Regions from separate parts of the Homo sapiens genome. Here all the other regions are linked to region 1. Evidence: fine-mapped expression QTL. A gene starts in region 1. Each other region holds a variant in brackets. All regions are shown on one strand. Distances are between the middles of the regions.

Region 1 (2,500 bases):
AACTCTCGAAGTTAAGCCCAGGATTTTAAAAAGAATTTTACTTCTGACGGAGGGCCACAGTGCCCGCAGGGCCCGTACCTGCTATCCTGGGAGGTTTGAGGGTTGGGGTGGTGGGGAGAGGAGAGTCTCTTTCGGCAGACTGCACCTCCCCACCCCTTCCCTATTTACCACGCCCCCAGGCGCTGTGCGGGCGGAGGGAGGGTGAAGGAGCAGTGGGGAGGAGGCAGGGCGAGAAGACGAAGGAGGGAAAAAGCTCCAGGGCTTCCACTCTCTCGGCAGGACCCCCACCCTGGCCTCTGGTGCGGGAAAACCTCCCAGCTGTTTCTGATTCTTTCATACTCTCAGCCCCGCCCGAGAGGGTGGAGGACCGAGGCACAGAGGGGGAGCGGGGAGAGACTGAGCTCCGCTGAGCCCAGGAGTAAGGGGCGGGGAGTCCGCAGGTGCCCCCTTAGCGTCGGCAGTCGATTCCCGGTCCGTAAAGAAAAGCACCCGGGCCGGGCAGGCCGGGCAAGCAGGAGCCAGGTCTAAACGTGATGCATTGGGGGTGGGGGGTGCAGTGGCTCAGAAGAAGCAGGGGCGATGAGCTCTAGCTGAAAGCATCCCCTGCTAGAAGCCGACTGCCCACGGCGCTCCTGTAGGCAGTGTTGAAAAGGTAGTTAAGACCTCCAACTCCCGGTGGCAGGGACTCTACCCATTTCACAGAAGCGCAAGGATGGAGGAAATGAGTGCATCCTCCGTGCTCAGCGCCGGTGTCACTGTAGGTTGGGGACAGGAGGGAAGTGCCCGCATCCCCTTCCCGCTCCGCCAGCCTGGCCGTCACCCATAGAAGTGGGGCTGCTGAGTGAAGGGCGCTAGGACCCGGTGGCGCGGTGTCGGCAGGGACTGGGCGCTTGGGGCGCAGGAGGGAGCCGCGGCGTCCCGTCGCAGCGTGCGGGAGCAGGTGGGGGTGCAGCGCGGTGGCGCGCGGGAGCCCCGAGGGGCGGAGGCGGCTGCTACACCTAGGGCGTCGCGGAGCGCCCCGGGCTTGGCGCGGGCGGAGCCGCCCTAAGGGCCGCGCGTGTCCCCGGCCTCGGCCCCGCCCCGTCCCGTCCAATGAGAGCCCGCGGCCGAAGGGGCTGTCCGCACACTAGGCCCGCAGCTCCCTTCAGCGCCGCAGACCCCCTGACACCGCACCCGGTCCTCAGGCAGCGCGCCCCAGACCCCGGGTTCGGCACGCCGTCGTCGGCTTCCGGACATCGCAACTTGCGCCCCTCTCGGGGATCCTCCTCCCGGGCTCTGGACCCCAGGTGATCCTAGGTCCCCAGCCGCCGGCGAACACCATGGCCCCCCAGGGGGGTGAGGTAGGAGCAGCCTGAGTACCCCCAGAAGGTGCCCCGTCCACGCCCCTCCGGGCTGCGCGGCGGGAGTCTTCGGGGAGCTATGCTGAGACCGGGTGGTGCGGAGGAAGCTGCGCAGCTCCCGCTTCGGCGCGCCAGCGCCCCGGTCCCTGTGCCGTCGCCCGCGGCCCCCGACGGCTCCCGGGCTTCGGCCCGCCTAGGTCTTGCCTGCCTTCTGCTCCTGCTGCTGCTGACGCTGCCGGCCCGCGTAGACACGTCCTGGTGGTAAGTGTGGCTCTCAGGCTGGGCGGGTGAGGCGCTTGGTAGGAGAGGCCGGAGGCGCCTGGAGGGACTGGCTGCTCACGGGACCAGGCTGTTGCTTCGACGGGTTGGAGACGATTCGGGCAGGACTGTCACTGAAATCTGAAGTCGCGGGGTGGCGGGAGGGTGAGGCGCCGCGTCTTACACGACTGGTGAGAAAGGCGCTGGGCATTCGGAGCAAGGATGCCCGGTGGTCGCGGCTCCTTAGGCCTCCACGTGCTGTACCCCCTCTATTTCAGCTCAAGCCCCTTAGGGCAGAAGCTACCTTCCGAGTTTCCCTCAGGGTGAGTTCAAGGAACGAATAACCTTCCAGGGCCCGCAATAGCTTCGCCAGGGCCCCAATCGCCTAAGGTCGCCCTCTGAGAGGTGGAGAAAGGGGCAGCTCGCTAGTCTAGCCCACCCATACCACAGGAAGGCTTTGGTGAGGCAGCAGCACCCAGCCGAGGCTTAGAAATGGAATCGAGGCAAAATTTACCCCATTAACTCCCACAATTAAAACAAACAAAACGCATGGGTTTGCATTATCTAGGCATTTGTCTTCAGCCACCGTTTTGAGGATGTCACTTAGGAAACTTTGCCTCCCTCCCTTCTTCCTATTCTTTCCCATCTCCCATTTCTCCCCTCCAAGAGCCAGAGGGCTGCGGAGTCCCAAGATACTAAGAGACCCCCTCCCCAGATTTCTTGCAGGCCCTAGACTCCAGACACTTCACAAGAGGGCAGATGAGGCAAAAAGGCATTACAGATCCACTGGATGTCTCGTGTCTGTTCTTTTTAGAATCCTCCCTGCCCCCTACTCCTTGGATGGCACTCATCACCTTCCCGTAGGAGAAGGAGCTGCTTTCCCTTCTTCCCCACCATGGGGA
Region 2 (2,500 bases), 25 kb before region 1:
ACACTTCCCAATTTTGAAATGTATTATAGCCAGATACAGGGTAGTCCCAGCTACCTGGGAGTGGAGTCTGAGGCAGGAGGATGCTTCAGCCTAGGAGTTTGAGGCTGCAGTGTGCTATGATTGCACCTGTGAATAGCCACTGCACTCTAGCCTGGGCAACATAGATACACACACACACACACACACACACACACACACACACACACATATACACACACACACACATTATAGTAATGAAAACAGTATGGTACTTGCATAAAAACAATATATAGAGCAAAGGGACAGAATAGAGCTCCCAGAAACAAATCCATGCATCTATAGTCAACTGATCTTCAACAAGGATGCCAATAACACACAATTGGAAAAGGATCATCTCCTTGATAGTGTTGGAAAAACTGGATATACAAATGCAGAAGGATGAAATTGGATCCATGTCTCACACTATATACAAAAATCAACTCAAAAAGGATTACAGATCTAAGCTTAAAAGCTAAAACCATAAAACTCCTAGAAGAAAACATAGGGGAACATTTTCTTGATATTGGCCTGGGAAATGATTTTTTTTTTGATGTGACACAAAAAGCACAAGCAACAGAAGCAAAAATAGACAAATGAGACTGCATCAAACTAAAAAGCTTCTGCACAGCAAAGGAAACAACAGAGAAAAAAGGCAGTCTAAGGAATGGGAGAAAATATTTTCAAACTATGTATCTGATAAGAGGTTAACATTTAAAATATATAAGGAACTCATACAACTGAATAACAAAAAAAAAAAAAGAAAGAGAGAATAAATTTAAAAAATAAATAAATAACCCTACTTTAAAATGAGCAAAGGACCTGAATAGACATTTCCCAAAAGAAGGCATACAGATGGCCAATAAGTATATGAAATCATCGGAGAAATGCAAATCAAATGAAATGTCACCTCACACCTGTTAGAATTAGTATTATCAAAAAGACAAAAGCCAGGTATGGTGGCTTGCGCTTATAATTTCAGCTATTCAGGAGACTGAGGTGGGAGGATCACTTGAGCCCTGGAGTTCAAGACGAACCTGAGCAACATAGTGAGACTTTGTCTCCAAAAATTATATATATATAATTTTATATAATAATTTTAACAATTTTATATAATAATTTATATAATAAATTATATATATCATTTTTATATATAATTTTGTCTCCAAAAATTTTATATATATATACACATATATATATACACATATATATACACATATATATACACATATATATATACACATATATATATATATATATACACACACATATATATAGAGAGAGAGAGAGAGAAGAGGGTCTCACTTGTCACCCAGGCTGGAGTTGGTGGTGCAGTCTCAGCTCACTGCAACCTCTACTTCCCAGGCTCAAATGATCCTCCTGCCTCAGCCTCCT[G/A]AGTGGCTAATTTTTTTTTTGTTTTTGTTTTTGTAGAGACAAGGTTTCACTACATTGCCTAGACTGGTCTCAAACTCCTGGACTCAAGTGATTCATCTACCTGGGCCTCCCAAAGTGCTGGGATTACAGGTGTGAGCCACTGTGCCTGGCCCCCAAAATTTTTTAAATTTAAATTTAAATTTTTTAAATCACCAAACTCCATGCCTGGCATGTGCCTGTAGTCCTAGCTACTCAGAAGGCTGAGGTGGGAGGATTGCTTGAGACCAGGAGTTCAGGCTGCAACTCCAGCCTGGGTGACAGAGCAAGACTCCCTCTTGAAAAAAAAAAAAAGGTTTATTTCTTTATATTAGCAATGGAAGTAGAAATTAATAAATAATACTATTTATAATAGCATCAAAAATACTAAATGTAAAGATATCTGACAGGAGATGTGCAAGACTTATACACAAAAACTACAAGTCATTGCTAAGACAAATTGAAGTTCTAAATAAATGGAGAGATATACTGTGTTTATAAATCAGAAGACAATATGGCTATGAATTCAGTGCTCTCCAAATAATTCATATATAGATTTAATGCAATCCCAGTGAAAATTCCAACAGGCTTTTTTGTAGAAATTGACAAGTTAACTCTAAAATTTGTATGGAAATGCAAAGGACCTAACATAACCAAAACAACTTTGAATAATAAAAACAAATTAGAAAATGTCACTATCTAACTTCAAAGCTTTTTATAAAGTTATAGTCGTCAGGCCTGGGGGCATGATGGCTCATGCCTGTAATCCCAGCACTTTGGGAGGCCAATGCTGGCAGATCACCTGAGGTCAGGAGTTTGAGACCAGCCTGCCCAACATGTCAAAACCCCGTGTCTACTAAAAATACAAAAATTAACCAGGCATGGTGACAGGTGCCTGTAATCCCAGGTACACAGGAGGCTGAGGCACGAGGATTGCTTGAACCCAGGAGGCAGAGGTTGCAGTGAGCCAAGATTGTGCCACTGCACTCCAGCCTGGGCGACAAAGTGAGACTCTGTCTCAAAAAAAAAAAAAAAAGGTTATGGTCATGAAGACTACGTTTTATTGGAATAGAAA
Region 3 (2,762 bases), 120 kb before region 1:
TAGTGCCTAGAACACAGGTACTCAACATATTTTGTTGAATGAATTTGCTTTAAGAAGGGGGTTATGTCTGGAAGAGAAGATGGGAGGCAGGGTCTGGAGAGAAGTGGCGTTAGAAATTAATGAAGAAACAGGAGTGGCCGGGCACGGTGGCTCACGCCTGTAATCCCAGCACTTTGGAGGCCAAGGAGGGCAGATCATGAGGTAAAGAGATGGAGACCAGCCTGGCCAACATGGTGAAACCCCGTCTCTACTAAAAATACAAAAATTGGCTGGGTGTGGTGGCCCACATCTGTAGTCCCAGCTACTCGGGAGGCTGAGGCAGGAGAATCGCTTGAACCCAGGAAGCAGAGGTTGCAGTGAGCTGAGATCACGCCACTGCCACTGCACTCCAGCCTGGGTGACAGAGACTCCATCTAAAAAAAGAAAAGGAAAAAAAAAAAGAAAGAAAGAAACAGGACTGATGAAGTCTAATGGAATTCCTTGAAATGGGATGGTCCATGGCTTTCTACAAACAGTATTAACTGATACTAAATTTTAAATTTTCTGTTTTAAAAGAAAAATTGTTATAAAACTGGACTGGAATAGAACTTTGTATTACATAAATCATGTAAATTTCTGGTCAAATGTTTATACAGTTGTCTGATATACATTAAAGGCAAACTCTCTCTTGTGGGTGATATTGATGTCAGTGGTGGGCCATCTGGAGCAGCCACTGCCACTGCGCCAACTGCCGCAGGGAGGTGAAAGTGGTGGTGGCAGAAGTAGCTGTGAGAGCAGCAATGGTGGTGGTGGGTCCCCTGTGCCCCATGTCTGGAGACAACTGACTGCACCGCCCCCACCCTTGCATGGCCAGGTGGGACCCACTCCCAGGCCCGGAGCTTCTGCAACTCTGGACCCTGGCACCGCATCACGGCTTTTGCGTGGCGCCCCTGCAGGAAGGGTAGGGGGAGGAGGGATAGCTGGGCCTAGGGCAGTGCTGTGCTCCAAGGGAGTCAGCAGGAGCCAGGGACAAGTGGGAGCATGCCCAGAGCCCACTGTTTGGGGGCCGCCACAGTGAGGCCAGCCGAGCCACCCACTGGCAGAGGAGGAGGGTGGTTGGGCATGCAGGGGTGGGCAGAGAGGGGTCCAGTGAGGACCTGGAGTCCCCCACCCCAGACTGCAAGGAGATGCCACCGGAGCTGCATGCATGCTCCAGGGATTGGGTGACAGCCCCGCCCTCCCAGACACAGGACCTGGGTGTCTCTGTACTCTGCACCCTCAGGGGCCCAGGAAAGCTCCTGCTGCCTCCACAGGCTCGAGGGTGTCTGCTCCTACTGCCTGGCCTTTCCCCACTCCTGGTGCCCACTCTGATCTCAGAGCAGGGTTGAGGCAGATTGCGGGGGGCAATGGGGTGGGGGGAGCTGAGGTGGGGCAGAGGGCAGGTTGGAGCTGGCCTGCAGGTGCCCCTTGGTGGGAGCAGCCTGGTCACCATGGATGGCAATAGGAGGCAGATAGGCTCCTGGGTGGAAGGGGGCAGGTCCCTGGTGAGGCCTCACCTTTA[G/T]GCCAGGGAGGGCCCAAAGGCTGGAGGCCAGGCTACCAGTCCCTCTGACCCTAGTGGGGACTTGTGGTGCCTTTTCCGGGCTGCCCATGGACCAACTGACATGCACTTCCTCCCCTCTGAGGCCAATAAAAGCCCCAGGCTTAGCCAGAGCTGGACAGATGCCAGCTTGAGCTGACCTGTGAATGAGAGCAAATGTGAAACAAACTCTCAAGTACATAGTACATACTATTTTCTTCCCAAACATCCATCCCCACTTTTTCTGGTAATAGAGATAGATAGATAGATAGATAGATAGATAGATAGATAGATAGATAGATAATAGATGGATGGATGGATAGATGATAGATAGATAGATAGATAGATAGATAGATAGATAGATAGATAGATAGACAGACAGACAGATAACATTTGAGGCTATAACTTTTTCCTACTCTTCATCCATGTCTGCAGGCACATGACCTAGATCTAGCCAATAAAAGCAGCCTATCCCTGGCCACGATGACTGGTTCAGGGATGAACACACAGTCCAAGCAGAGCCAAGGAGATAGTGGGATCTTTCTCCCACTTCTGGAAAAGAGCAGGTGCTCTTTCCTATTGAATACGACAAGATATGAAGCCTGAGCTACTGTGCTTATTGCCAGCTGAGGAAGAATGCCTGTCTAAAACAGAACCAACACAGAGGAAGCAAAGTTGAGAGACACAGGGATAGAAACCTGGTCCTGGCTGGGTACAGTGGCTTGCCCCTGTAATCCCAGCACTTTGGGAAGTGGAGGTGGAAGAAGCACTTCAGGCCAGGAGTTCGAGACCAACTGGGCAACATAGTAAAACTACAAAAAATTCAAAAATCAGCCAGGCCTGGTGGCTCACTACCTGGGAGGCTGAGGCAGGAGGATTGCTTGAGCCCAGGAGTTGGAGGCTGCAGTGAGCTATGATCACACCACTTGCTCTGTCACTCCAGCCTGAGTGACAGAGCAAGACCAGAAAGAAAGACAGAGAGAGAGGAAGGAAGGAAGGAAGGAAGGAAGGAAGGAAGGAAGGGAGGGAAGGAAGGAGAAGAAGGAAAGAAAGAAGAAGGAAAGAAGAAAAAGAAAGAGAGAGAGAAAGGAAGGAAGGGAGAGAAAGAAAGAGAAAGAAAGGAAGGAAGGGAGGGAGGGAGGAAGGAAGGAAGGAAGGAAGGAAGGAAGGAAGGAAGGAAGGAAGGAAGGAAAAAAGAAAAGAAACG
Region 4 (2,762 bases), 100 kb before region 1:
GATTAGAGCCCACCCTAATGACCTCATTTTAACTTAATTATCTCTTTAGAGATCCTGTTTCCAAAATCAGTCACATTTTGAGGTACTGGGGCTTAGGACTTCAACATATGAATTTTGGGAGGTACAAGTCAGCCTGTGTTATGTGTATTTAACACATGTATTATAGTAATCCAAATATTCCAGTAATATCTTTCACCTTCATCTGAGAGAAGCTTGATTTGAGATATATACTGTTTAATATTGGAATTGAATAAAATGAGATCAGTTATTATACCTTGATTTTAGAACTTTTGTAAATAGTAACAAAAACGGCTTTCTTTTTTCTTTCTTTTTTTTTTTTTTTTTTTTTTGAGGCAGGGTCTCGCTGTATTGCCCGGGCTGGAGTGCAGTGACGTAATCTTGCCTCACTGCAACCTCCACCACCCGGGCTCACGCAATTCTCCTGCCTCAGCCTACCAAGTAGCTGGGACTACAGGCACACATGCCACCATGCCTGGCTAATTTTTGCATTTTTTGTAGGGACAGGATTTTGCCATGTTGTCCAGGCTGGTCTCAAACTTCTGAGCTCAGGTGATTTGCCGGCCTCAGCCTCCCAAAGTGTTGGGATTACAGGTGTGAGCCACGCCCTTCAAAAACAGCTTTCTTTAACAAATGTACAAAAGATCTGCTTTCTTAATCAAAAAATTACTTTCTTTCTTTTTTTTTTAATTTTTTTTTTTTTTTTTTTTTTGCTGTTGCCCAGGCTGGCCTTGAGCGCCTGGCCTCAATTGATCCTCCTGTTTGGCCTCCCAAAGTGCTGAGATTACAGGCATATGCCACTGCACCCAGCCAGAAAATTATTTTCTAGTGGCACATTGACATGTTTTACTTCCTAGCCTAACCCTTAAATGCCAAAGAGGAATGAAAGGGACCATTTAGAATGTTGTCACTCTTTTATCCCAAATGAATAAATAATCCTTCTGAAAAATTAGAATCTTAAATCTTTTGAGATAGTCAAGGTAGTGTGTCAACACCTTCTACCTCCAATATGAGGTTGTTTTGTATACATTTTAATTTTTTTTTAAGGAGCAACCCTATTAACTGAAGCTTTGAATGCATTTTTTAAAATAGCAGTGCATTTCTGTTCATATTCAGATTTAGTATTTGTAAATGTGGCAAGTTTCTTTTTTATTATTATTTCATGTATACTGGGTTTTTAAGAAAAGTACATGATCTAGTGGCAAACTATCAAAAACACCCATTTCACATGTCCATCTTGGCTCTTTGAGTTTTAAGAATTTACTGGCCTCCTATATTTTGGCTTGGCTTATATGTATTGAAAGAGTATTTACGGGCCGGGCATGGTGGCTCACACCTATAATCCCAGCACTTTGGGAGGCTGAGGTGGGCGAATCACTTGAGGTCAGGAGTTCAAGACCAGCCTGGCCAACATGGTGAGACCCCCGTCTCTACTAAAAATATAAAAACTAGCCAGGCGTGGTAGCACGCACCTGTAGTCCCAGCTACTTAGGAGGCTGAGGCAGGAGAATTGCTTAAACTGCGGAGGCAGAGGTTGCAGTGAGCCAAGGTTGTGCCAGTGCACTCCAGCCTGGGCAACCAAGTGAGACTCTGTCT[C/CAAA]AAAAAAAAAAAAAAAAAAAAGGAGTCTTTACATAATTGGAGTCAATTTCCTTTATAACTTTGCTCGCTAATCACTAATCACTTTGCTCACCAATACTAAAAACTCACTGAATGACCTTAATCTGAGTCATTTGTAGTCCAAATATAAATTTCTTAAATTTGATAGCTGAGTATAAATTTCTTAAGTTCGATATCTGAGTATATAATTAAAAAGTGATTTTTATCCAGCGTTGCAAGAATGCTCTCCTAGGTAAAATTACTGATTAAAAAAAATTAGTCCAGTTGATTTATTTAAATAGATCTATATAGATTTTTTTGAGGCATTTCTATGTCAGGAGCTATCTAAGCCTCATCTAAAAATGTTGTTTTCCTACCTTATGTGGAAAAACCTACCACCTGGAAAGAAATAAAGCCTCAGTTCTATGTAGATATGCTCACACCCAGATAATAGACAGACAAACATCTTGCTTGTACTCCACCCTGCCCTGCCCTGTCCTGCCCTGTCCTACTGCTTACATGGCTATAGAAGCTGTTTAGGGTGTTTCTTTTTCCGCCATTCAGTCTCTATATGGTAAAATGGCAGCAGCAATGCTTGTTATCTTATAGAATTAAGTCAGAATTCCAGAGCAGAAACTGGGACTTCTTCAAGAAAGAAGAAGCATAACCGAAACCAGAATAAGTGGAGCTCGGATAGTATCCAGAGAGGGGAAAATATCAGAATAAAATGAGCAGAGCCACACCAACATACTTCTAGGCAAAATCAGTACTACAGTTAAGGAGGCACAGTGGGGTAGTTGGGGGGATGCAGTTTTTGATACCCATAACTTCTGACTGTTGGCACAAGAAAGTTCATCTAGAAAAGACTCATGCTGTCCTGGCTATTGGGCTAAGATTTCATGGTGGGATGAAACCTGTGAATACACCAAATGGTATGCTGGGCAGGCTCATTTGAAATCACTTATTGATAACATAAAAATAAGTGTAGGCCGGGCACGGAGGCTCACACCTGTAATCCCAGCACTTTGGGAGGCCAAGGCGGGGGGATCACCTGAGGTCAGGAGTTTGAGACCAGCTTGACCAACATGGAGAAACCCCATCTCTACTAAAAATATAAAATCAGCTAGGCATGGTGGCGCATGCCTATAATC

Direction of the effects. Positions count from the first base shown, and alleles are read on the strand shown. Sizes are in standard deviations (SD) of each study's normalised expression. Not every link is listed here.
As copies of A replace G in region 2, the expression in sun-exposed skin of the gene that starts at base 1,122 in region 1 goes down (small effect, 0.15 SD a copy in GTEx).

The links. PIP is the estimated chance that this variant, and not a neighbour inherited with it, causes the effect.
Region 2: its variant is the best candidate, but not a certain one, in a credible set for the expression of WNT2B in sun-exposed skin (GTEx, PIP 0.51).
Region 3: its variant is the best candidate, but not a certain one, in a credible set for the expression of WNT2B in aorta (GTEx, PIP 0.51).
Region 4: its variant is the best candidate, but not a certain one, in a credible set for the expression of WNT2B in subcutaneous fat (FUSION, PIP 0.81).

The regions. Positions count from the first base shown.
Region 1 is chr1:112,507,844-112,510,343 of GRCh38, forward strand. WNT2B (Wnt family member 2B) reads left to right here and starts at 1,122. Exons shown (of 5, transcript NM_024494.3): 1 at 1,122-1,601. The coding sequence starts at 1,420. RefSeq lists enhancers at 390-933, 1,858-2,357 and silencers at 911-1,040, 1,051-1,160, 1,221-1,300, 1,361-1,470, 1,464-1,758.
Region 2 is chr1:112,483,016-112,485,515 of GRCh38, forward strand. It overlaps a transcript of WNT2B not described here. Among named protein-coding and RNA genes, the nearest start is that of MIR4256, 22 kb to the left of the region's middle. The variant G/A (reference allele first, on the strand shown) is at 1,411.
Region 3 is chr1:112,385,305-112,388,066 of GRCh38, forward strand. No RefSeq gene overlaps it. Among named protein-coding and RNA genes, the nearest start is that of CTTNBP2NL, 9.5 kb to the right of the region's middle. RefSeq lists enhancers at 496-1,031, 1,032-1,566. The variant G/T (reference allele first, on the strand shown) is at 1,541.
Region 4 is chr1:112,407,513-112,410,274 of GRCh38, forward strand. All of the region lies in intron 1 of CTTNBP2NL (CTTNBP2 N-terminal like), which reads left to right. Among named protein-coding and RNA genes, the nearest start is that of CTTNBP2NL, 13 kb to the left of the region's middle. RefSeq lists a silencer at 241-428. The variant C/CAAA (reference allele first, on the strand shown) is at 1,615.